Linked DNA regions of Homo sapiens. The protein of the gene in region 1 purifies or fractionates together with the protein of each later gene. This does not show direct contact. Each region holds a gene or a part of one and is shown in the gene's direction. Other genes may lie near its edges. The genes, in order: CCZ1B, KLK15, KLHL14, DHFR, THBS3, PLEKHG7 and D2HGDH.

Region 1 (3,500 bases):
TCTCCAAGACCATCCTCACTTCTGACACCCACTGCGAGTTTGGGAGTCCCCGTGACCACCTTTAGGGTAAGAGTTCTCTAGAAGTACTACAGGACTCAGAAAAGGCTTTCTACAGCAGTACCCCCGAGCCAAAGGCCATGTGTTCCAAAACCCCCGGGAGGTGCCTGAAACCGGGGACAGTACCAAACCCTTCACTTGCTGTGTTTTTTCCTGTACATACATGCCTGTGATAATGTTTATAAATTCAGTACAGTAAGCGATTAATAAGGCTGGGCGCAGTGGCTCACACCTGTAATCCCAGCACTTTGGGAGGCCGAGGCAGGCAGATCACTTGAGGCCAGGAACTTGAGACCAGCCTGGCCAGTGTGGTGAAACCCTGCCTCTACTATAGATAGAAAAATTAGCCAGGCATGGTGGCATGCACATGTAATCCAAGTTACTCAGGAGGCTGAGTCAGGAGAATCTCTTGAACCTGGGAGGCGGAGGTTGCAGTGAGCCAAGATCGTGCCACTGCACTCCAGCCTGGACAAGAGTGAGACCCCATCTCAAAACAAGTAATAGTAATCATAATTGGACGATGACACTCTACTGCAATAAAAGTCATGTGAATGCGGTTTGCTTCCCCCTTCCCTCAATATTTTATTATACTGTCCCTCACATAACAGAAACCATGGGAAACAAAACCAGGGGGAAGGAAGAATGGCGGCACTCACAGCTGCGGTTTATTACAGTGGAAGAATACAGGTTAAAATCAGCCCGGGGAAGAGGCGTGTGGGGCAGGGCCCAGGAGCCACCAATGGAAGGACCAGGAGTCCTTCTATTTGCTTTAGGTTGGTTTGGGTTGGTTTGGTTTTTTGGGTTTTTGTTTTGTTTTTTGTTTTTTTTTTTTTTGGTTTTTTGGTTTTTGAGATGGAGTCCCACTCTGGTGTGAGCTTCCGGCTGTCCTCTCCCGTTGGGGTCATGTGGACAGCCCAGTGAGTGTTTCCCCATCGAGGATGTGTGGCTGTGTCTGTGGAGTGTTGACATCCAGGGAAGCTCACCTGAGCCTCGAGATCCAGAGATCTGATTGGGGGTTGGCCACAGAGACACAGCTGGCCCCACATGGCCAGCCTTAGTCTCCAGCCCTCCAGAGGTGGAGCGGGTGCTGTGCGGGCTTGGGTGTAAGGGATATTGGCCTGTAGTTTTGTTTTCTTGTGATATCTTTGGGCAATGCTGGCTTGATAAAATGTGTTGGGAAATGTTCCCTCCTATTTTTTTGGAAGACAGTGAAAAATTGGTGTTAATTCCTCTTTACATGTTTCATAGAATTCACAGTCAAGCTCTCTGCACCTGGGCTTTTCTTTGTGGCAAATTTTAAAGTTAACCATTTATGCCCAGTGTTCCATTATTGGAACACTAAGCTTGTGAGAGTTATTTATATCCTGCTGAAGGTCATTGCCAAGGTCTCATTTTTCACAAAAAAGATTTACAACCTCCAGCATAAATGGGTTAATCTCTGTACTTGTTACAGGTTTATTTTGATTTTGTTTCTTCTTGAGTCAGCTTTGGTAGTTTGTGTCTTTCTAGGAATTTGTCAGCTTCAATTAATTTATTTGATTTGTCGGCACGTGGTTTTTCATGGTATTGTAGGTAAAGCCGGATACTCCTTCGTTTTTCCTGTAAAGTCAGTAGTGATGTCTCCTCTTTCATTCCTGGTTTTAGTAATTTGAGTCTTCTCTCTTTGTTTCTTGTTGTATAGTCTAGCTAAAGGTTCTTCATACTTCTGGAATCTTCACAAGAAAAAGGAAAAGTTTTTCAATGTTGGGTCTTTTCAGAGAACAACTTTTGGTTTCATTTATTATCTCTGTGATTTTTCTCTGTTGAGTTTGTTTCTGCTCTCATGCTTTATTATTTCCTTCCATTTGCTTTAGGTTTGTTTGGGTTTTTTTGTTTTTGTTTTTGTTTTTTTTGAGACGGAGTCCTGCTCTGTCACCCAGGCTGGAGTGCAGTGGCACAGTCTCAGCTCACTGCAACCTCTGCCTCCCAGGTTCACATGATTCTCTTGCCGCAGCCTCCTGAGTAGCTGGGATTATAGGCGCACCACCACGCCCGGCTAATTTTTTTGTACTTTTAGTAGAGATGGGGTTTTGCCATGTTAGCCAGGCTGGTCTCAAACTCCTGACCTCAGGTGATCCGCCCACCTCGGCCTCCCAAAGTGCTGGGCTTACAGGTATGAGCCACCACACCCGGCCCCACTTGCTTTAGGTTTAGTTGACTCCTGTTGTCCAGGATCTTAAGACGAAAGGTCAGGTCACTGATTTGAGATCTTTCTTCTCTTGAGACAGGATCTCGCTCTCGGAAGTGGGAAGAGGTACTGGGGCAGGTGGGAATGTGAGTTCAGGAGCGGAGGCTGTGGCTGGTGGAAGGCGGCCAGCGGAGGAAATAGAATGCTATAAACCATAGAGGAGGAGGGGGAAGGCAGACGAGGGGTCACACCTGTCATGACATGAGCAGGAAGTCAGTACGATGCCCAAAGAGGATACGTTGAAGAGTTAGGATAACGCTGTTGTCTAATGACAGTGTAAAGTGGTTGCCGGGGAGGAGGGTCAGAGAACGAAATCTGTGGCTTTCATCATCAGGCCTGGTGTTCTGCTCAGCCTCTCTTAACCATACATTGCTTTGATAACTTTTAAACATTTTTGGTTATCTGTGGTCCTGGTTGTTGTCGGTTGCTAGGTCTAATGTCATAACTGTAATTACTTGCTATAATAAAGTGAGACAGGATGATATCCATTTGCTGTCTTTGTAAACGTGTGTCAATGGAAATCGTCACAGAATAATGGACAGTTTCTGCCAATTCTCTATTCTCTCTGGACTATACACAGAGAGATTAGAACAGTGAACCCCTAAGTCCCCATCACACAAGTGAATAAGATTCTGGTCTTCGTTGCTTCTCCATGTTGTGTTGTCGGGTTTGCAAGAGCATTTTAAGTCATCACGTCAGTCACGAACACTTCCCTGTGCCTCTCTGATGAGGACATCCGTGGTAACCTCCCCACTGGCGCTGTCACACCTGACAAGGTCAACAGCACTCCCCTCGCATCATGGAATGGGCAGTCTGTGTCCAGATGGCTCTAGTTGACCAAAAAGCAGCTTCTTACAGTTGACTTCTCCCCATTGACTTTGAACAGATTGTTATTATACGAAAGTCTCCTTTTTTCCACCATTTCATAACCTCTGGTTTGTTCTGTCTTCCCAGGCCATGAGTGCGGCTGTGTGCTTTATGATCGACGGTGGGTACGCGCCTTTGTCTGATTTCAGCCTAAGCTTTTTGTACTTTGCTGCATCCTATTCTTAAGTGATAAATATGTTTTGGGGGTTTCGGTTGTTTGGGGTTTTTTTGTTGGAGACGGGGTTTCACTCTTGGAGTGCAGTGGCATGATCATAGCTCACTGTAGCCTCGACCTCCTGGGTTCAAGTGATCTTCCCACCTTGGCCTCCTAAGTCGCTGGGACTGCCAG
Region 2 (2,893 bases), on another chromosome or scaffold:
ACTCACCTACCTGCCTCGCGCCTGCCTGCTGCGCCCAGCTGGGGCCTCCACCTTCCTCTGGCTTGGACTGGCCAGGTGCAGCCTCGGTGCCCAGCTGTTCAGCCCGTACCCTCCGCCCTTCGGAGGACGACCTCACCCTTCCTTTGTTAAGCCCCTTGTCCACCACATCCGCATTCCCCTGGTCTCACGGGGGCCTTTGGCCCAGTTCCTGACTGTGATGGGGAGAGTGTGGGCATTTGGTCTGGCTGTGCAAATCCTGCCCCTGTGTGGGTGGGAGTGTGCATGGCTTCAACCTTCAGGGGATGCATCCACATTGCCCAGTGGAGAGGGGTCCTGGTCCTGTGACCTTGAATGTCTCTAATCATGTCCTTAAGCATAATGCCATTCTGTGTGTGTGTGTGTGTGTGTGTGTGTACATGCACGTGTGCAGTGGGTATACAAGGCCCTGTATGTTCACATCCTCTCCACATGCATGAGCCAGATCCCCATATGTGAAACCCAATCAGTGACTCCACAGATCTGGCTTGGGGGCTGATCTAGAGATGGATAAATATGTCCTGCCCTGGCTGCCTCTGGCTTCAGCTGCATGTCTTTGACCTTGAATGCCCAGCCCCGTGTCTGGGTGCTGCCCCAGACAGCAAGTCCACATCTGAGTGTTGGCCTTCTGGGTTGGTGTCTGCAGCTCTAACTCTACAAAATGTCTTGTGGGTGAATCACGGTTTTAACCTTGACTTTTTTTTGTTTGTTTGGTTTTTTTTGAGACGGAGTCTCGCTCTGCCGCCCAAGCTGGAGTTCAGTGGTGCAACCTCAGCTCACTGCAACCTCCGCCTCCCAGGTTCAAGCAATTCTGTCTCTGCCTCCCGAGTAGCTAGAATTACAGGCACGCACCACCACGCCCAGCTGATTTTTGTATTTTTATTTATTTATTTATTTATTTTTTAGTAGAGACGGGATTTCACGATGTTGGCCAGGCTGGTCTCAAACTCCTGACCTCAGGTGATCCACCCACCTCGGCCTTGGCCTCCCAAAGTGCTGGGATTACAGGCGTGAGCCACCACACCTGGCCAACCTTGACTATTTATTATAGGTAATTCTGTGCAGATGTCTGACTTATGTTGGCCATCTCCAGGATGGACCTGAACTTTCACACGTATGTCCCTGTGACTAAATCCAGGTGTCATTTGCAAAAAACAACTAATATTATTAAGTAGCTACCAGGGCTAGGTATCACTCACCATACATACACACATGCACACACACACATACACATTCCTACCTCATCCTTACAACAATCTTCATTTTACAGATGAGGAAACAGAGGCACAGACAGGTCGAATAACTTACTCAAAGTTTCACAGCTAGTACATTCGAACCCAGGCTTAAGGACCCATCTTTGTCCAGACCCTGTATGCAAGTGTCTGTGACACTGGATGCCAAGACTCACACTAGAGATGTTGAATTTAGGTCTGAACAATATCCAATTCTGTGTGTGTGTTTGTGTGTGCATGTGTGTGTGTGTATGTATTCATGTCTTAACCATCCATATTCATATACACATATGAACATCTGTGCTGTGATTCTTTTTTTTTTTTTTTTTTTTTTTTTGAGATGGAGTTTCACTCTTGTCACCCAGGCTGGAGTGCAATGGAGCAACCTCCGCTCACTGCAATCTCCGCCTCCCGGGTTCAAGCGATTTTCCTGCCTCAGCCTCCAGAGTAGCTGGGATTACAGGCACCCGCCACCATGCCCAGCTAATTTTTTGTATTTTTGTTAGAGACAGGGTTTCCCCATATTGGCCAGGCTGGTCTCGAACTCCTGACCTCAGGTGATCCACCCGCCTCGGCCTCCCAAAGTGCTGGGATTACAGGCATGAGCCACCGTGCCCAGCCTGTGCTGTGATTCTTGAAGCTGCAACCCATGTGCATGCAAGTGAATTTCAGCTTCCAGTCCTGTCCATAGCTGTACCTAAGTGTGGAAGCTGGATGTGCATGTATGCATGTCCATGACCTTGTATAGCCACATCTGGGACTCATACTGCACACTGAATTTGGCTGACATGTCCAGACTCTGGGGCCAAGGCTGGGTCACACATACTGAGTGGCCACATGCGTTTGACGTCTGTGACAATTTGGTGACCGTGAATGACTGGTTTCAAGTGACCACCTGTCTGAACCTGTATCCAGTGCCCCTGTCTCCACCCCCAACCACAGAGGACTTCTTGCCCTCTGGTCTGTTCCCCTTCCTCTCTCTCCCAGAGTCTTATAGCAAATGGGGTGGGGGCTAGAGTTCTGGAGAAAACAGGCAGCGGTTGTAAATAAACAACAGGGCAGGCGGAGCATGGTGGCTCACACCTGTAATCCCAGCACTTTGGGAGGCTGAGGCGGGCAGAGCATTTGAAGTCAGAAGTTTGAGACTACCCTGGCTAACATGGTGAGACCTCGTCTCTACTAAAAATACAAAAATTAGCCAGGTGTGGTGGCGGGCACCTCAGCTACTCGGGAGGCTGAGGCAGGAGGATCACTTGAACCCAGGAGGCGGAAGTTGCAGTGAGCTGAGATCATGCCACTGCACTCCAGCCTGGGCAAAAGAGTGAGACTCCGTCTCAAAAACAACAACAACAACAAACAAAAACAGGGCAGGGTGTCTTGAGAAGTTAGGGGAAAGGCATAGGCATATAGTAGTTAGGGCAGGGTGCAAGGAAGGTGTAGGAGGCAATGTAAACGTCCCTGTCCTCAGGCATCCTCTACCCCTTCTCTTAGCAGCCCAGGATGGTGACAAGTTGCTGGAAGGTGACGAGTGTGCACCCCACTCCCAGCCATGGCAAGTGGCTCTCTACGAGCGTGGACGCTTTAACTGTGGCGCTTCCCTCATCTCCCCACACTGGGTGCTGTCT
Region 3 (3,500 bases), on another chromosome or scaffold:
GCAAGATCGCCGCGCTGCACGGCCTGGAGGAGACCAAGAAGCTGGCCAACAAGTACCTGGTGGAGGATGTGCTGCTGCTCAACTTCGAGGAGATGCGCGCCCTGCTGGACTCGCTGCCGCCCCCCGTGGAGTCGGAGCTGGCGCTCTTCCAGATGTCCGTGCTGTGGCTGGAGCACGACCGCGAGACCCGCATGCAGTATGCGCCTGACCTCATGAAGCGCCTCCGCTTCGCCCTCATCCCGGCCCCGGAGCTGGTGGAGCGGGTCCAGTCAGTGGATTTCATGCGAACCGACCCGGTCTGCCAGAAGCTGCTGCTGGACGCCATGAACTACCACCTGATGCCCTTCAGGCAGCACTGCAGGCAGAGCCTGGCCAGCAGGTAGGAGACAACAAAGAGGAGGGCGGGGGAGGGGGGGGTAGAGCCAGAGAGGCCGGAGGGAGGGGAGGGGGCAGGGAGGAGGGAAGAGATGGGTGGCCTGGGCGGGTGGCTCTGGCAGGATGAAAACAAACGCAAACAATTCAGAGTGTGTGAGGAAAGTTGATTTCAGAGTCCCTGAAAGGTCAATAGGGAACTGGCCTAGCAGCATCCCTGAGCGCTCCAAAGCCGAGGTTCTAGATATCCCCAGAGCCGTAAACATGGGAATTGTGGACTCAGACTGAAATTGACAGGCAGATGGGGCCAAAGGCCAGGACAGTTAGAAGTGTAGCTTTGGAAGTCTCTCTAAGCCAGCTCTCCCTACAAATCTTAAGATGGGCTTGCTCAAGAAAAAGGATCCTGTGGTGAGGAATGCCCACCCCACCCCTCCTCAGTTCTGCCTTGGGTGAGCAGAAGAGCCCAGGCGATGCTTGCAAAGGAAGGCTTTCATGGTCTTGCCGTCACACACTCAAGTTGTTTCTTCATGACTGGGATCTGCTCCCTGTCGATGTCAGAACTCCAAAATGCTTTGTCTATTAGGGTCACTATTGGAAATGCTGGTATCATGTGCCCAGGCAAACTTTTCTATGTTGTGGAAAGCCTTTCCTTTTCACTTTTAAAGGAGAGTAAAGCAAGAGATTTCAGGGTGATGGGGTGAATCTTGCCTAGCAACTCCCATTTCTGAGAAGAGTGCACTTGAAAATTGGGATGGAGGAGTGGAGAGGCTTCTAGCTCCAGTTGGTCTGTGTGCCTGCTCACCAGTGACAAAGAAGTTGGAGAGTTGCTGCTGCCTCTGTTGTTGCTAGTTAGAAATGTGGCTGTGTGTGTTGCAAGTAGGATTTCAGGGGAGAGAGAAATGATGCCTTTTAAAAATGCTGCTGAGATAAAAAGGCTGTAGGAATTGACAATCGTGTTTTATTGGCTCCAATTTTAAAACCATTTTTAATGAGCCCTAGCAAAGGGTTTCTTTCTCTTTTTAGAAAAGAGAAACAGTATCCTCTCAGTTTCTCATGATAAAACATCATGATTCCAGATGCCAGGCTACTCCAGCCTAACCACCAAAGTGTTACAAAGTGTAGCAAAGTACATGGTTTGAAAATCTAGCAGGGCATTTTCCCAGTCAGAATGATGTCTAAAGAATGGGGCCCACCTTGTGCAGCCTTATAGAATTAAATGGTGTGTGTGTGTGTGTGTGTGTGTGTGTGTGTGTGTGTGTGTCATTATGTTTCCACCAGACCTAGGTAACTAAAGTTTAAAGAAATGGAAGATACTCTCTACACTTTTTTAGGCAGCTCTTGTGTTAAGGAGAGGCCAACAGGAGGCATGAGAAATCTTGAACTTGTAACAAAACCCTGTAAGTTCATTTTTCTAACATCTGTGGGAGATGAGTTAACGAATCGTGTTGTCAAAAGATGATAATAGGACAATAGAAGAAACAAGAATCCAAATCCCCGTGTGCTTTTAACAGTGAGCACAAGAGGCCAATGAGGAAAAAAACATGAAACGTATTTTTATTTTATTGGAATTTTTCGTTTGTCTAAAGATCCAAATGGCAAACTCAGTGTGATGGGCGATGGGCCTTGGTGATTAATATTCTGTGATTTAAATTTTTGTCACTTTTAAATGACCTACAAGTATACTTCATTTAGCATATATCACACATAGTCAATAATTCAGACAACACAGTTATAGTTCTGAACATACATTTACTCATACTTTTAAAAATATGTATAACACGGTATAAATTCAGAAACCCAGAGGAATAATAAAATTAAGATTTAACTTATTCTAAGAGTAATTTTGGCAGAGGAGCTTTATAAATTTGATCCAGTAAATTTCTGAAGCCCTCAATGCACTTTTATCTAACAGGTATGTCCTAAGGTTCAATGTTAGAAGAGTTGACTTTCAAAATGCAAAATCCATTTCCCACTTTAGTCAAGATTCAGCACACCAGCTAGTGCCTGCTGGCTCTGTCCTGGTGGATGGCTGAGATACCAGGCTGCCTGGCTCCGTGACGACACCCTCCAGCTTCACTGGGCCACATCATTTGAAGGATATGTAGTGGTGTCTGACCACTGAATGCTTACAAGTGTCATGGATGCTGCAAGAATCTGATACTTCTGCAGTAGGAAGAAAACTGTATTTTCTTTTAAAAGAGAAAGATATAGAAAAGCAAATAGTTCATGCGAACCTATCATTGACCTCAAAGTAATATAATTTAGGTTTTATTCCTTTATTAGTAAAGGTAGCATTTTGAATTTTACAGACTAATTACATTATTTTAATTGTAATTCATAGGAAGAATGCCAAAATAACCATGAAGTTCCTAACTTTAAAGTAGACAGAAATGCTGTAAGTTGCAACCAACAATATTAAATCAGCCCATTTATTATAGCATCAGTGTAATATAAAAATGTTCCCTTAGCCTTATGTGTCATTTAACGGGGATAAATGTGTTAACCAATTGTTTTTGAGATTACATCACTTTCATTGAAGACAATTGAATAGAAGGACCTTGTATTTATTACTTTTTATCCACCTGTAGTTTTTAAACTCTAAATATAAAAGAGTTTCTTAAATTCAGAGAAGGAGATGAAAATGTAAAATTGACCAGTCTTTTGGAATAAGTACAAAGTATAAGCAAATAGAATAACTTCAAAAGAGAATTTACTTGTTTAAGAGTATATTATCTATAGAAAGTAGAGATATTAATATAATCATAATTTAAGCATTTTAAAGATTATTAATTTTGAGTTTTCATTAAGCCTAGAAAAGTAAAGGAACCCAAGTATGAAATCTTTATACAAATACTCAAATTAATATAAAATGTTCCCTCTTGTTGCTTGGTTTTTCTAAGTATACCAGTTGCACTTAAATTCATATTCCATTTTACCAAACTTAACATAAGGACAATAAGTAAAATAAGAAACTTGTCACTCTGTATTCAAATACACACATAAGTAATTTAAGATGACAGGATTGACAAAGGATATAAAGTTTCAGTTAGACGGGAAGAATAAGTTTTAGTGATCTATTGCACCAGCAACGTGACCACAGTTAGTAAAAAAGTATTACATATTTCAAA
Region 4 (4,230 bases), on another chromosome or scaffold:
AGCCTATATCGGGAAGGTTAGAAAATGATGTGTTATCTCTACTCTGAGAAGGCCTGACGTATGTGAAGCAATTTAAACCTTACAACTGAATGACAAGGTTCCTTGCCATCCACTCTTCAAAGAATCCTCTACTTTTAGCTCTGGAAAACCCTATGGGTGAACTGTTTTTAACACCATAAAAGACAAGGTAGAGTCTGATAGTCAGGAGCCTCAGCAACTCAAGCCGTGTTTAGAATTAATTGAAACCAAGGCTGCTACCGGTCTTGATTCAATGAGCCTTCAGCTTTCTCTAATTATAAAACTTGAATCACCCTACTTACATATGCTAAATAAAATACCTCTAAGAAATAAACAGTTATGTAGCAAAGGCACAGAGGGGAAAAGATAGGTAATAAAAGAACAGTATCATTTTTGACATGTTCACTGCAATTTAAGTGTTTCCTGTTTAAAAGGTTTATGTTCATCACTAAAGATGTGACAAGATTATGAATTTTTTCTTGGCAGAAAACTTGCCAAAAGCATACATAAGTCCTTCACCAGCTACCCTTTAAATGGTGGGTGCAAAATTTTGGTGAATTCATGAAAACGTAGCTCGTCCTCAAAAAAAACAGAAGAGGAGTAATCATTTTAAGGGAGAAATATATACGAAAGGAACAAGATTTTGAAGCACCCAAGCTGCCACCTACATTAAAACACGGTAGGTGGCTAAACACCAGTCTTCAATGCCCTTCCACAGCCTCAATCTGAAAAATACTGTGCAGGTGACCCAAGTGAGGGGTCACCCTTGGGCTTTTCCTGTGGCAGTATCTCTGGTTTAAAAACAAACAAACGTACTTATTGCGTTGAAGGATGGCAACAGGAAGGACTCCATGATTAGTCACATCTATACCATCCTAAGAAACTTTATCCACCCAAACTGTATTTCAGACTTTATAATCTAAACTACAAAAAGAGTTCACTGGGGAACTGCACAATATGACTGCTTTTAACCGTAGTGATTTCAAATATTGAGCCATGCTGTTGCAGTCTTAAAAACTGGAGACCTAAGGGCAGCTTTCTTCTAGTCACCCAATCCAGCACTTTTTTAAAAAATCAGTAAAACTCTTCGACCACCAAGGAAAAAAAAAAAGGATGGAGGTTAAAAGACGCACCCCTTGCCCACAAGCCCCCTCATCAGAATGGGAGTCAGGAGACCTGAGTTCCTGTCTCAGGCCTGCCATTAAAAACCTGCATAACCTTTGCCTATCTCCTCAAACGGAAGTACTAAAACCTCAGCGCTTCACCCAATTTGTAGCCCCGGCTGGGCTCTTCCCACCTTCCCCTTCTTCAGCCCGCCCCTTCCTCCTCCAGCCCTATCATCGGGCGGAGGGTCCCCGCCTCCGCCCGCCTTACCCACAAGCCCCGCCCCCCCAGCCCCGATGGCCCTGCCCAGTCCCAGACAGAACCTACTATGTGCGGCGGCAGCTGGGGCGGGAAGGCGGGAGCTGGGGGCGCTGGGGGCGCTGCGGCCGCTGCGGCCGCTGCAGCCGCTGCAGCGCCAGGGTCCACCTGGTCGGCTGCACCTGTGGAGGAGGAGGTGGATTTCAGGCTTCCCGTAGACTGGAAGAATCGGCTCAAAACCGCTTGCCTCGCAGGGGCTGAGCTGGAGGCAGCGAGGCCGCCCGACGCAGGCTTCCGGCGAGACATGGCAGGGCAAGGATGGCAGCCCGGCGGCAGGGCCTGGCGAGGAGCGCGAGCCCGCGGCCGCAGTTCCCAGGCGTCTGCGGGCGCGAGCACGCCGCGACCCTGCGTGCGCCGGGGCGGGGGGGCGGGGCCTCGCCTGCACAAATGGGGACGAGGGGGGCGGGGCGGCCACAATTTCGCGCCAAACTTGACCGCGCGTTCTGCTGTAACGAGCGGGCTCGGAGGTCCTCCCGCTGCTGTCATGGTTGGTTCGCTAAACTGCATCGTCGCTGTGTCCCAGAACATGGGCATCGGCAAGAACGGGGACCTGCCCTGGCCACCGCTCAGGTATCTGCCGGGCCGGGGCGATGGGACCCAAACGGGCGCAGGCTGCCCACGGTCGGGGTGGCCGACTCCCGGCGAGAGGATGGGGCCAGACTTGCGGTCTGCGCTGGCAGGAAGGGTGGGCCCGACTGGATTCCCCTTTTCTGCTGCGCGGGAGGCCCAGTTGCTGATTTCTGCCCGGATTCTGCTGCCCGGTGAGGTCTTTGCCCTGCGGCGCCCTCGCCCAGGGCAAAGTCCCAGCCCTGGAGAAAACACCTCACCCCTACCCACAGCGCTCCGTTTGTCAGGTGCCTTAGAGCTCGAGCCCAAGGGATAATGTTTCGAGTAACGCTGTTTCTCTAACTTGTAGGAATGAATTCAGATATTTCCAGAGAATGACCACAACCTCTTCAGTAGAAGGTAATGTGGGATTAAGTAGGGTCTTGCTTGATGAAGTTTACCAGTGCAAATGTTAGTTAAATGGAAAGTTTTCCGTGTTAATCTGGGACCTTTTCTCTTATTATGGATCTGTATGATCTGTATGCAGTTCCCAAGGTTCATTTACCATTATTAAAAAATTTTTGTCTTAGAAATTTTATGTATGTCAACGCACGAGCAAATTATCAGGCATGGGGCAGAATTGGCAGCTGGGTGGAGGCTTCGGTGGAGGTGAGCACTCCGAAAGGAAAACAGAGTAGGCCTTTGGAACAGCTGCTGGAAGAGATAAGGCCTGAACAAGGGCAGTGGAGAAGAGAGGGTAAAAATTTTTTAAGGTTACATGACCCTGGATTTTGGAGATCTCGAATTTAAAGGTGATGCACCAGGGATGAACGCTCAGATTTTCAGTTTGAAAGCTGGCGTGACATGTAAAGGAGTGGAGAATAATGTACCATTGTAATGATGAGGCGCCTCTAGGACATCTAGGATAATTTCAGGCGTGGGGATCTAGGTGAATTGAACTGTTGGAGGGAAGGGAATAACCAAGGAAAAGAATGTGGGGGTTGAGAGATGCCCCGTTTAAAACCTAAGAGACCTGGATATTTATGGTTGTAAGAGGAGGCATGGCAGAGGAAATGGAAACAGTAAGAAAGGAGCAGATGCTGCATCTCTTTAATGGGACAGATACAAGGCATTTGGGTTTGACACTTAGGTCACTGGTAGAGATGATGACAAGAGCCCGTAGCTAAAGAATTGATAAAAGCCAGTCTCAAAAATCCCAATATAGTCTGGTAATGTTAATGTTTCTTTGGTTCAGATAGCTGACTCTCAAAGTTATTTTCCTAAGAAACTGAACCAAAAGTGGACGCTATATGTAAAAAGTTTTTATAGAAGTGTTATAAGAGTAGGATAGAGACATAATTAAACATGTTTTAAGGTAATTGAGTGGAACATTAAGCACCTATTTTTAAAAGTATGATTTAATATCAATCTACAAAGTACACAAATATAATACAATTGTATCAGACAGTTGTGACAGCACTGATTAGAGGCTGAACATTATTCTAAGTCTTTAATTCCCACAACAACCCTAGAAGCAGGAACTATTGTTATCTCTATTTTATAGATAAAGTAAACCACAAGGGGTTAACACGTTTTGTCTTGTGGGTGACAAAATGCATTCAACTTGAGCACTTTGACTCAGAATCTTTTTTTTTTTTTTTTTTAAGAGGGAGTCTTGCTCTGTCGCCCAGGCTGGAGTGCAGTGGCGCGATCTCCGCTCACTGCAAGCTCCGCCTCCCGGGTTCACACCATTCTTCTGCCTCAGCCTCCTGAGTAGCTGGGACTACAGACGCCTGCCACCACACCTGGCTAATTTTTTGTATTTTTAGTAGAGACGGGGTTTCACCGTGTTAGCCAGGATGGTCTCGATCTCCTGACCTCGTGATCTGCCCATCTTGGCCTCCCCAGAATCTTTACTATGTCATACACAATTGCAAATGATTAAAACTAAATATTGGATATAAATTGGATAATGCCAAAGGGAAAAATAGTTAGATTTAGGTAATGAGTGATAAGTATGAATTTTGGTAAGACTTTTAAGTTCAGTTTTTTAAAGGAGATCTCTGCCAAACCCCAAAAACAAAGAGCCCTAACATCAGCCTAACCAGATTTCAAATTTCATCTTTTGGCGGTATGCATTTTTAACAGTCACCCCTCAACTAACACATCATCCTCCCTCAACTCACATTCTACTAACCCCATCAATGCAACTCCCTGCCCACCTTACTCAACATATACACCGCT
Region 5 (3,500 bases), on another chromosome or scaffold:
TGGAAGGAAAAGGGAGGGTCTGGGGAAAGGAGTAGGGCTATGTTTAGGGCCTGGGTTGGGGGTCTTCATAGGAGAGAGGTGGGCCTGGGCCCAGGAACTGTTTGGTGGGGAGAATAGGACCTGAAGCAGGGAAAATATAGGGAGGAGGGGAGCCAGACCAAACTGCTAGCTCCTACCCTTTGTGTTGCCCTAGTGTAACGTGGGCTGGGCTGGGAATGGGAACGTGTGTGGGACTGACACAGACATCGATGGCTACCCAGACCAAGCACTGCCCTGCATGGACAACAACAAACACTGCAAACAGGTGCAGGGAGCAGGCGGGCAAGGGGGCGTAGTGGGGAGCCCAAGCTGGGTCAGGCCAGAACTCATCCATCCTCTTCCCCTGAACTTTAGGACAACTGCCTTTTGACACCCAACTCTGGGCAGGAAGATGCTGATAATGATGGTGTGGGGGACCAGTGTGATGATGATGCTGATGGGGATGGGATCAAGAATGTTGAGGTGACTCCCAGACTGCCCTGCCCCTTGAAGCTCCTCTCCCCTCCTCCTGTCCTCTCTGTGCCTCACTTACCTCATCTGGCAGCTCTCTAGTAAGGGCCAAATACTCCAAATCAGGGAGGCAAAAACCTCGTGCCCAGGACAAGGAGGCTGGGTGGGTGGGACTGTACTGAGCAGTTTGTCCATCACAAGGGTGTGATCTTAGAAAAGGATACAGAGACAAGGTAGGTGCAAGATGACAAGTGATTTAGGGGAGACCTGACCCTTCCCCTCCCACCCCTCTGCCCAGGACAACTGCCGGCTGTTCCCCAACAAAGACCAGCAGAACTCAGATACAGATTCATTTGGTGATGCCTGTGACAATTGCCCCAACGTTCCCAACAATGACCAGAAGGACACAGATGGCAATGGGGAAGGAGATGCCTGTGACAACGACGTGGATGGGGATGGTGCAGGCCTGGGGCTGAAGGGGTGGCTGGGGGACCTGTGAGAATTTGGATCAGGTGGGGATGAAGCAGGGAAGCTAGGAAGTCTCTGTGAAATAGGGAGGCAGGCTTGTGGACGTTGGCCTGGGTGAGGAGAGATTACCTGCAGCAGATGTCAATAGGAATGTGAGGTAGGGCGTAGTGTTAGGCAGAGTGTGGACTAGAGGGTGAGACAAGAAACAGGCAGATTTCCTGGCCAGTTGTCCTCTGGGTGGGGAGACAAAGTTCGGGACTTTCACCAACCTAGAAGAGAGAATATGGCATGTTCTAGTAACAACCTTGTGCTACCCATGTCTTCTAGGCATCCCCAATGGATTGGACAATTGCCCTAAAGTCCCCAACCCACTACAGACAGACAGGGATGAGGACGGGGTGGGAGATGCTTGCGACAGCTGCCCTGAAATGAGCAATCCTACCCAGGTACAGGGAGATGGTAAGGACAGGGGAGGGATGAGGGTACTGATGGATGAAGCCCCAGCCCTTTGGATGGAAAGTGGTCAGATCACCCTCTTCAGAGTTATCAAGAGGAGATGGTGAGAACAGGTCCCTCTCTCTCAGACAGATGCAGACAGCGACCTGGTGGGGGATGTCTGTGATACTAATGAAGACAGGTAAGGTCTTGGTCAAGAGACGCAAGGTCTTTCTTTTTTTTGTCTTTCTGAGACGGAGTCTTGCTCTGTCACCTAGGCTGGAGTACAGTGGCACGATCTTGGCTCACTGCAACCTCCGTCTCCCAGGGTCAAGTGATTCTCATGCCTCAACCTCCCTGAGTGGCTAGGATTACAGGCATGTGCTACCAAGCCCAGCTAATTCTTGTATTTTCAGTAGAGACAGGGTTTCACCATGTTGGCCAGGCTGGTCTCGAACTCCTTACCTCAGGTGATCCGCCAGCCTCTGCCTCCCAAAGTGCTGTGATTACAGGTGTGAGCCACTGTGCCAGCGAAATGCAAGGTCTTATAGGGGATATTTTACTTTCCTCTAGTATATCCTTTTTTTTTTTTTTTTGAGACGGAGTCTTGCTCTGTCGCCCAGGCTGGAGTACAGTGGCATGATCTCGGCTCACTGCAAGCTCCACCTCCCGAGTTCACGCCATTCTTCTGCCTCAGCCTCCCAAGTAGCTGGGACTACAGGCGCCTGCCACCACGCCCGGCTAATTTTTTGTGTTTTTAGTAGAGACGGGGTTTCACTGTGTTAACCAGGATGGTCTCGATCTCCTGATCTCGTGATTTGCCTGCCTCAGCCTCCCAAAGTGCTGGGATTACAGGCGTGAGCCACCGTGCCCGGCCTCCTTTTTTTTTTTGAGATGGAGTCTTGCTCTGTCACTCAAGCTGGAGTGCAGTGATATCGGCTCACTGCGACCTCCACCTCCAGGGTTCAAGCGATTTTCCTGCCTCAGCCTCCCGAGTAGCTGGGATTACAGGCGCGTGCTACCAAGCTCAGCTAATTTTTGTGTTTTTAGTAGAGACAGGGTTTCATCGTGTTGGCCAGGCTGGTCTCGAACTCCTGACCTCAGGTGATCTGCCCGCCTTGGCCTCCCAAAGTACTGGGAATACAGGCATGAGCCACTGTGCCCAGGCCATAGTATATTCTAAATTCCTTCTATGATTTAGCCTTAATTCTCTATTGCTATTCAGCAGGAATTTATTCTTACAGTCATCCCTCCATTCCTACTGCCAGACCTTCACCTCACCTGGCTGACTGCCAGGGGTCTGATTGTATGGAGAGCAGGCTCCAGAGACTCCCAGGCAGAAGCGAAGGGAAGGACAAGGAGTACCTTTAAATCCTTTATTTGGTACCTGTTCTTCTGATTAGCGATGGGGATGGGCATCAGGACACCAAGGACAACTGCCCACAGCTGCCAAATAGCTCCCAGCTGGACTCTGATAACGATGGACTTGGAGATGAGTGTGATGGGGATGATGACAATGATGGCATCCCAGATTATGTGCCTCCTGGTCCCGATAACTGCCGCCTGGTACCCAATCCCAATCAGAAGGACTCAGATGGTAAGCCTGCGGACCCAGAGCACGTTAGACTGGTGTTGCCTTTGCCCAGGTGGAGGCAGCAAGCCCTGTTGGGAAGTGAGGAAGGGCAAGGTGGGGAAAGATGTCAGGAATGCAGGCCCAACAGATGGTATTGTTGCCTAATGGCAGTGGCCAGGGCCTTCCTGAGCACCCAGCCTCACTCTGCCCAGGCAATGGCGTTGGTGATGTGTGTGAGGATGACTTTGACAATGATGCTGTGGTCGACCCCCTGGATGTGTGTCCTGAAAGTGCAGAGGTAACGCTTACGGATTTTCGGGCCTATCAGACCGTCGTCCTGGATCCTGAGGGTGATGCTCAGATTGACCCAAACTGGGTTGTGCTCAACCAGGTAACTCGGGGCAGTGGGCTGGGCAGGTGCTATCAGACAGGGCTACTGGGACGGGGGGCCTGGGAGGGATAGCACACCTGCATCACAGCTTTTTCTTTACTATACAACCCCAGGGCATGGAAATCGTTCAGACCATGAACAGTG
Region 6 (3,500 bases), on another chromosome or scaffold:
AGCTGGAGGAGCAGCTCCTGGTGGGTGAAAGTCTAAGTCAGATGTGAATTCATGCATCGCATGGGTTCAAAGTGACTGTCATAGATGTATGGGTTGGAAGCTCACCTAAGAAAGACTCTTTACAAACAGACTCAACTTTTCCAGAAAATGCTTCTTGTACAGTCAAATGTGGTAGTATGGACATGAACTACATAATGTCACTAACACCAGGCACTTGTTTAATGGCATATGCTGTATTAGTCAAATTCCATCAGAGATGGAGACTCCATATGATGTAGTCTACATGGCATCAAGCCAAGTGCAAAGTCCTGAGACTGGACTCAGAGTTGAGCATCGAGATTTGATGGGGCAGGGTGATAGTGTTAGAAGAAACAGGACATTTCACTTCTTGGTCTTTTGGCTAAGATCAAGTGAGGAAACAGGACATCATTTTAAATGAAAAAAGCATTGAACCAACAGTCAGGGGATCTAGCACCAATTGTAGGCTTTGGGAAAATTTAAATTCTCTTATTCTCTTTTATAAATGTTATTGCTGCTGCTGATAATGATGATGACAATGAGGATGAAAATGATGTGATGAAACCTAACACATACTGTGTTTCCAAATTTCTCCCAGCCTTAAAAACTGTACTCTTATAATCAAATAAGTATATGTTCTCATTCCCAGAAGGTACACATTTTCATAATTTGTTTCATAACTTACTTGGTGGAAAACTAGGGCCTCAATAAATGGTAGATAAAATAATTACCACTTTCTAGAATAATGTCTGTAACATTATCTAGAATAACATCTGGAATACGTAGAAGGTGTGCTCCCTGCCTGTTTGTCAAAATAAAATAGTTGAAATTAGAAGGAGAAAACAAAACTATTTCATTTTGACAATGATCATTGAGCTGACGCATACATGAGTAGCAGAAGATGGGAATAGCAAATTTTACAGGTTTGAAGGTTGCTGTGGACTGAATTGTGTTCTTCCATTGCTGTGGACTGAATTGTGTTCTTCCACAAATCACATGTTGAAGCCTTAATGTCCAGTATGACTATACTTGGAATAAGGAAGAAATGCAGGTAAAATGAGGGACTCAGGCTGGAGCCTTGATCTGATAGGATTAGTATCCTAATCAGAGCAGACATCAGAGAGCTCACTCTCTCTGTTTGCCATGTAAGAACACATGCAGAAACCCAAAAAGAAAGCCCTTATCAGGAACTGAATCGACCAGCACCTTGATCTACTTCCCAGGCTCCAGAACTGTGAGAAATAAATTCCTATTGCTTAAGCCACCCTGTCTGTGGTATTTTGCTATGGCAGGCTCAGCTGGCTGTTCACAGGTCTAGTGCTGTACCATTCCTAGCCCTGTATATCAGTTGGCATATAGATTCAGCCACTGGAGACGGACAGGTTAAAAAAGATAGTTTATTTCTCTCTTGTTAAGTCTCAACCTATATGACAACTCCACTCCATGAAGTCATTAGGAATCCAGATTCCTGCTGTCTTATTCCCAAATCTAGGGAACTGCCTTCTTCTGTGTGGCCCAAGATGACTCACCAATATGTCTGTATTCTACCCAGTGAGAAGGAGAGACAGAGACAAGAGAGCTTAGCCCTGCCCTTCACGAATATGACTCAGAAGTTGCATGCTTTGGCTCACATTCCATTGGTCAGAATTTAGCTCCTTGGTCATATTCAGCAGCAAGGAAATGTAGTCTCTGTTCTCTGAGGATGGGTACTCACTAAAACTTGGGGATTCTACTGCTACAAGAGAAGGGGAGAATGGTTTTCAAGGGACAACCAGAAGTCTTTGCCACAACTTGATTTATGAAAAGTTAAGTTTTTAATATGATTTTTAAAAAAACTATTCAAGGACTATTTAATTTGAATAAAATACCAGATTTCTCCCCTATGCAAATATAGAAAAAATCTTTTCTCTAAACTTAAAGAATGAGAGGAGATAGAAATGAATCCTAAATGTTTTAGCTACTACTTTAAATCTTCTAGGGGTAAAAACATATAAGAAAGAACTTCTAGAACAATATATATATATAATCTAAATAGAACAAGCTGAAAAAAATTTACTGGGTTTTCCTATGATTACTCTAAGCACTTGTCACATCTCCCTCTAAAAACCTTTTCCTCTGAAATCACTTAAATTTAACCCTTTTTTCTAATTTCTAAGGGATAGAGTAAAATAAGGAAGGAGATGCCTTATTCTGATACTTGGTTTCTCTTCTACTACTATTCCCTTCTTAGGGAAAACTAAAGAAAAGCTATTTGCCTTAAGTAACTATTAAAACTAATATCAGAAAAGTTTGTAAATATGAAACAGATGGAGAATATCTAAACATTTATAGACACTTTCTAAAACTTGAGAAATAAGTAGTTTTAATGACTGTCAACCTAGGCCGCCATAACAAAATATCACAGACAGGCTGACTTAAACAGCAGAAATTTATGTCTTACAATCTGGAGGCTGAAAAGTCCCAGGCCAAGGTGATGGCAAATTCAGTTCCTGATGAGCGCTCTCTTCAAGACAAGGAGTGGGGGATAGGGTGGAGGTATCCGGTGTCTCAAAGAACACTAATGCTACTGGATCAGTGCACCAGCCTTATCACTTCATTTTACCCTAATTACTTTCTTACTCCAAATGCAGCCACCCTAGTGGTTTAGGGCTTCAACATATGAAATTTGAGTGACACAATAGCATAATTCATAGCAGTGAGAAAATGCCTTTTCTCTGGTTATGTGTGCCTTTGCCAATAACCACCCAGAGGAATCTAGAGGCAAAAATGCTGCAAGTTCAATCAGTTGATAGATTTACCCTCGGCTGAGTTGAAGCCACTACAAATAACATCTGAGTTATCTTAGATTCAAATGAGACGCATCATAAATTCAATGTCTTTAATGTTGGAAGCTTGGCCTCTCATCAAGTCTCTGCTTTAGGAAGAAATCAATTCAACATTGAGGCAGGCAGCTTTCTGACCTACATGATTGGAGCCCCTGGGGTGCCGTAATACTCACCCAGTTTTGTTTTCTAAGGAATTCATTGATTAAAAAAAAGAGAGAAAGAAAGAAAGAAGGAAGGAAGGAAGGAAGGAAAGAGAGAATGAAAAGAAAGAAAGAAAAAGAAAGAAAGAAAGAAGAAAGAAAGAAAGAAAGAAAGAAAGAAAGAAAGAAAGAAAGAAAGAAAGAAAGAAAGAAAGGGAAAGAAAAACTCTTCTACTTAACAGTTTCAGGTCCCCATTTCAGCTTCTCTTTTTTTCCTCAGAAAGCACGAGATTCCTAGATGTTTATCTGTTTCTCTTCAATGATTTCCTCTTAGTTACGAAAACTAAGTGCAACAAAAAGGTAAAATGCTGCTATTTCAAAGTACGTTTCTAAACAAGTTTGCTAAATGAGTTTAGAAATATTTCTAAATAAACTGTGGTAAAAATATAAAATATTCTTAAGCTGAATCTTTTCCTCTAAAAAATGAAGGCATTATAAACTATTGGCTTTTTTAGTC
Region 7 (3,500 bases), on another chromosome or scaffold:
GCCTGTGGGTCATTTCCTCATGGAGCCTGTGGGCAGCTGGGGTGACGCGGTGCGAAGCCAGCCGATGACATCTTGGTTTGTGTGTCTCAGTGTTTGTTCTGTGGTTTTTCGGTGCTATCTCAATGCATCTGTGGTGTGTAATCATTTCCCCCCATTTGGCAATGCCCATGCCCATTTCTTGGCACTGTCTGTAACAGCAAAGCTCCTCCCCCATGAACACACTACAGGGTGGCACTGGTCTCCGGGTGTCCATGACTGTGGACAGTGCTTTAGATCATCCTCAGCAGGTGCTTTGGGGCAACGTGCACTTACTCTGTTAAACTCCATCCCTGGGACTTGCTGTCTCCAGGGTTTATTTCATGTGTGGGGCTTGCTGTCTCCAGGGTTTATTTCATGTGTGGGGCTTGCTGCCTCCAGGGTTTATTTCATGTGTGGGGCTTGCTGTCTCCAGGGTTTATTTCATGTGTGGGACTTGCTGTCTCCAGGGTTTATTTCATGTATGGGGCTTGCTGTCTCCAGGGTTTATTTCATGTGTGGGGCTTGCTGTCTCCAGGGTTTATTTCATGTATGGGGCTTGCTGTCTCCAGGGTTTATTTCATGTATGGGGCTTGCTGTCTCCAGGGTTTATTTCATGTGTGGGACTTGCTGTCTCCAGGGTTTATTTCATGTGTGGGGCTTGCTGCCTCCAGGGTTTATTTCATGTGTGGGGCTTGCTGTCTCCAGGGTTTATTTCATGTGTGGGGCTTGCTGTCTCCAGGGTTTATTTCATGTACATGGGCAGATTCCTTTTCCCAGAGCACGGAACTTTGGTTTCTCCAAACCCCTAGCCACTGGGTGTGCTCTAGGCTTTGGGGCTTTGCAAAGGTGCAGGCTGGTTGGGAGGGAGGTATCCTTGGGCACACGTCTGGGGGATAATGGGCCGAGGGTGGGGAGATGCAGGCAGAGGGTGGAAGGCAGTGGGGGCAGTGCGGTCGAGGAACCCTGAGCTGGACCCTCTGTGAGCATGGTGTGAACGGGAAGGATGGGAGCCGGGCGTGTAGGACGTTCTGTCCTTTGAGGGAAGCCTTGTAGGACGTCAGAATCGGGGCCTCCACTTCCGTCTCCCTGTGCACAGCTTTCGGATTGGCCTCTGTCCTTCCTCAGAATCCCTCACATGCGTGGGCTGGGGAGGAGCCCCCGCTGAGGCTGCAGGCAGGGCAGGGTAATCAGGATTTGGAGTCAGGCACTGGTCCTGCGGCGTGTCCTTGGGGATGGTGGCGTAGGGGTGGGGACAGAGCCCCAACGTCCCTCCTGTCCTCATCCCAGGCACTGCCACGAGAGGAACCTGGCCGTGAACCCACAGGGGGGCAACACAGGCATGGTGGGTGGCAGCGTCCCCGTCTTTGACGAGATCATCCTCTCCACTGCCCGCATGAACCGGGTCCTCAGCTTCCACAGCGTGTCTGGTAAGCCTGTGCCACCCGTCGGGGCCCAGGAGTCCCTCCTGGTGCTGGTGGAGTTCTTCCTTGCCAGCGTCTGCAACTGTGGGGTGCTTGGGTGGGTGAATGAGTTAGGGCCGGCGCTGGGGAAAGAACCAGCGTCTGTAGCCTGGCCGCCTAGCCCCACCTCGCCCGGCCCCTCCAGACATGCGTGCTGGTGAGGGCTTGTCATTCTGGTCCCTTCCGACTCCATCCCGCTCTAGAGGTGTGTGAGGTGCAGAGTGGCATGTGTGAGGGGATCCTGACCCAGGGTGCCAGGGCGTGGCAGGCATGAGGGGATCCTGACCCAGGGCGCCAGGGCGTGGCAGGCGTGAGGGGATCCTGACCCAGGGCGCCAGGGCGTGGCAGGCGTGAGGGGATCCTGACCCAGGGCGCCAGAGCGTGGCAGGCATGAGGGGATCCTGACCCAGGGCGCCAGGGCGTGGCAGGCGTGAGGGGATCCTGACCCAGGGCGCCAGGGCGTGGCAGGCGTGAGGGGATCCTGACCCAGGGTGCCAGGGCGTGGCAGGCATGAGGGGATCCTGACCCAGGGCGCCAGGGTCCTGCTCTGGAGCTGGGCCTCTCCCCGCAAGGCCGGGCTCCAGGCCCCGGTCACTCTGTGGTCGGGCGCCTGCACTGTTGGGTGTTGAGCAGCATCCTTGGCCTCCGCCTACAAGGTGCCCATGGCACCCCCAACCCAGGCATTGTCCCACATGCCCAGGGCAGGATCAGCCCCAGCTGAGAATCTTCCCTCTTCTACTCCTTTCCACGAGTGTGTGTGGGGGTGGGAAGTTTTTTCCTCTCTTTTCATGTTACTCATTTTTTTTTTGTGTCACCATAATTATAAAGGTCCTGTGAGGCCCAGATGTTTTCGTCCTTGGGCCAGCGATGTGGGGGTGCCTCTTCTCCTCAGCCCTGGCGCTGAGGCTGATGTTCCTTCTGGGTGGCTTGCCTGTGCAAGATGGGGGTTGGGACTCACCAGCCCGGGGGCCCACTGGAAGCCAAGTGCTGCGGCAGCCTGGTCACTCTCTGCAGGAATTCTGGTTTGCCAGGCGGGCTGCGTCCTGGAGGAGCTGAGCCGGTATGTGGAGGAACGGGACTTCATCATGCCGCTGGACTTAGGAGCCAAGGGCAGCTGCCACATCGGGGGAAACGTGGCAACCAACGCTGGAGGCCTGCGGTTTCTTCGATATGGCTCACTGCATGGGACTGTCCTGGGCCTGGAAGTGGTGAGCTGGGGCAGCTGCTTGGTGCAGAGGTCGCCACGGGGTGTCCTCTCACGGCTCTCATGGGCCCACGTGGTGGCACAGGTGCATGGGGCCCCTCGGGGTGGGAGGTCTTGGTTCCTGGCCCTGGGCCCCTCAAGGATGTGTGGGCTACATACACCCCCATCCTGAGGGAGGCCTGGCCCTGCCCTGTCCTCCCACGAGAGGGTGATTTTGTGTCCACTGCCTCGGGGCCACACAGAGAGGATGCAGTTACAGGGGACACCGCCCCGGCAGTGGTGGGCTTCTGGGAGCCGGGTGTGAAGGAAGGCTCATCCAGGGTCAGCTTCGTGACCTTCTGCTGCCCACTGTTCCTCCAGGGCCCCTCTGTTTACCCGCACCCTCACCAGCCGAGTGTCACAGGCAGAGCTCTCTGTCCTGTTTACCCAAGTGGACGAAGCAAACACAAAACCATGCTTTGGTGCCATCCAGTAAATTATGACGCTTCAGTAGCTTTTTTTTCTGGCCAGCCACTGATTATCTTTATTGTAAATTACTTTTTTGCACTCATGAGCTGTGTAGGCCTCCGACTCACAGTACCAGCACACAGGACTCGGAGAGGCCCACAGCTCGGGAGCTTTGATGCCTTATGGCTGGTGGGTCCAGAGGTGGCTGGGTCCTGGGCTGGGCTCACGCCCTACTCCCAGGGAGCCTCCCCACTGCCCCCGACCCCGGGCGTGCCCCCTGGGCAGTGAGCTGCTGTGTGTGGAGGGTGTCACTCGTACAGGAGGAAAGTCCATCCTTCAGCCTCTTGGCATGACCTCAGGCTGCTGCAGAA

Evidence for each region.
Region 2: the proteins of CCZ1B (region 1) and KLK15 purify together in Homo sapiens (co-immunoprecipitation; one large-scale study listed by IntAct). This does not show direct contact.
Region 3: the proteins of CCZ1B (region 1) and KLHL14 purify together in Homo sapiens (co-immunoprecipitation; one large-scale study listed by IntAct). This does not show direct contact.
Region 4: the proteins of CCZ1B (region 1) and DHFR purify together in Homo sapiens (co-immunoprecipitation; one large-scale study listed by IntAct). This does not show direct contact.
Region 5: the proteins of CCZ1B (region 1) and THBS3 purify together in Homo sapiens (co-immunoprecipitation; 2 studies listed by IntAct). This does not show direct contact.
Region 6: the proteins of CCZ1B (region 1) and PLEKHG7 purify together in Homo sapiens (co-immunoprecipitation; one large-scale study listed by IntAct). This does not show direct contact.
Region 7: the proteins of CCZ1B (region 1) and D2HGDH purify together in Homo sapiens (co-immunoprecipitation; one large-scale study listed by IntAct). This does not show direct contact.

The regions. Positions count from the first base shown.
Region 1 is NC_000007.14:6,805,776-6,809,275, reverse strand, and holds part of CCZ1B (vacuolar fusion protein CCZ1 homolog B), read left to right. Parts: intron 1-3,238; coding exon 3,239-3,272; intron 3,273-3,500.
Region 2 is NC_000019.10:50,827,682-50,830,574, reverse strand, and holds part of KLK15 (kallikrein-15 isoform 4 preproprotein), read left to right. Parts: intron 1-10; exon of another isoform or gene 11-45; intron 46-2,759; coding exon 2,760-2,893. UniProt on the Homo sapiens protein: Protease whose physiological substrate is not yet known.
Region 3 is NC_000018.10:32,766,524-32,770,023, reverse strand, and holds part of KLHL14 (kelch-like protein 14), read left to right. Parts: coding exon 1-379; intron 380-3,500.
Region 4 is NC_000005.10:80,652,184-80,656,413, reverse strand, and holds the start of DHFR (dihydrofolate reductase), read left to right. Parts: upstream 1-1,430; 5' UTR 1,431-1,449; coding exon of another isoform or gene 1,450-1,686; 5' UTR 1,687-1,924; coding exon 1,925-2,010; intron 2,011-2,356; coding exon 2,357-2,406; intron 2,407-4,230. Other genes in the region: DNA mismatch repair protein Msh3, read right to left, coding at 1-3, 1,450-1,686.
Region 5 is NC_000001.11:155,197,898-155,201,397, reverse strand, and holds part of THBS3 (thrombospondin-3 isoform 1 precursor), read left to right. Parts: intron 1-193; coding exon 194-304; intron 305-393; coding exon 394-501; intron 502-571; exon of another isoform or gene 572-698; intron 699-787; coding exon 788-947; intron 948-1,086; exon of another isoform or gene 1,087-1,226; intron 1,227-1,284; coding exon 1,285-1,403; coding exon of another isoform or gene 1,404-1,416; intron 1,417-1,541; coding exon 1,542-1,594; exon of another isoform or gene 1,595-1,600; intron 1,601-2,779; exon of another isoform or gene 2,780-2,795; coding exon 2,796-2,989; exon of another isoform or gene 2,990-3,054; intron 3,055-3,136; exon of another isoform or gene 3,137-3,177; coding exon 3,178-3,356; intron 3,357-3,469; coding exon 3,470-3,500. UniProt on the Homo sapiens protein: Adhesive glycoprotein that mediates cell-to-cell and cell-to-matrix interactions. Can bind to fibrinogen, fibronectin, laminin and type V collagen.
Region 6 is NC_000012.12:92,758,489-92,761,988, forward strand, and holds part of PLEKHG7 (pleckstrin homology domain-containing family G member 7), read left to right. Parts: intron 1-3,263; coding exon 3,264-3,343; intron 3,344-3,500.
Region 7 is NC_000002.12:241,741,130-241,744,629, forward strand, and holds part of D2HGDH (D-2-hydroxyglutarate dehydrogenase, mitochondrial isoform 1 precursor), read left to right. Parts: intron 1-1,305; coding exon 1,306-1,445; intron 1,446-2,492; coding exon 2,493-2,686; intron 2,687-3,500.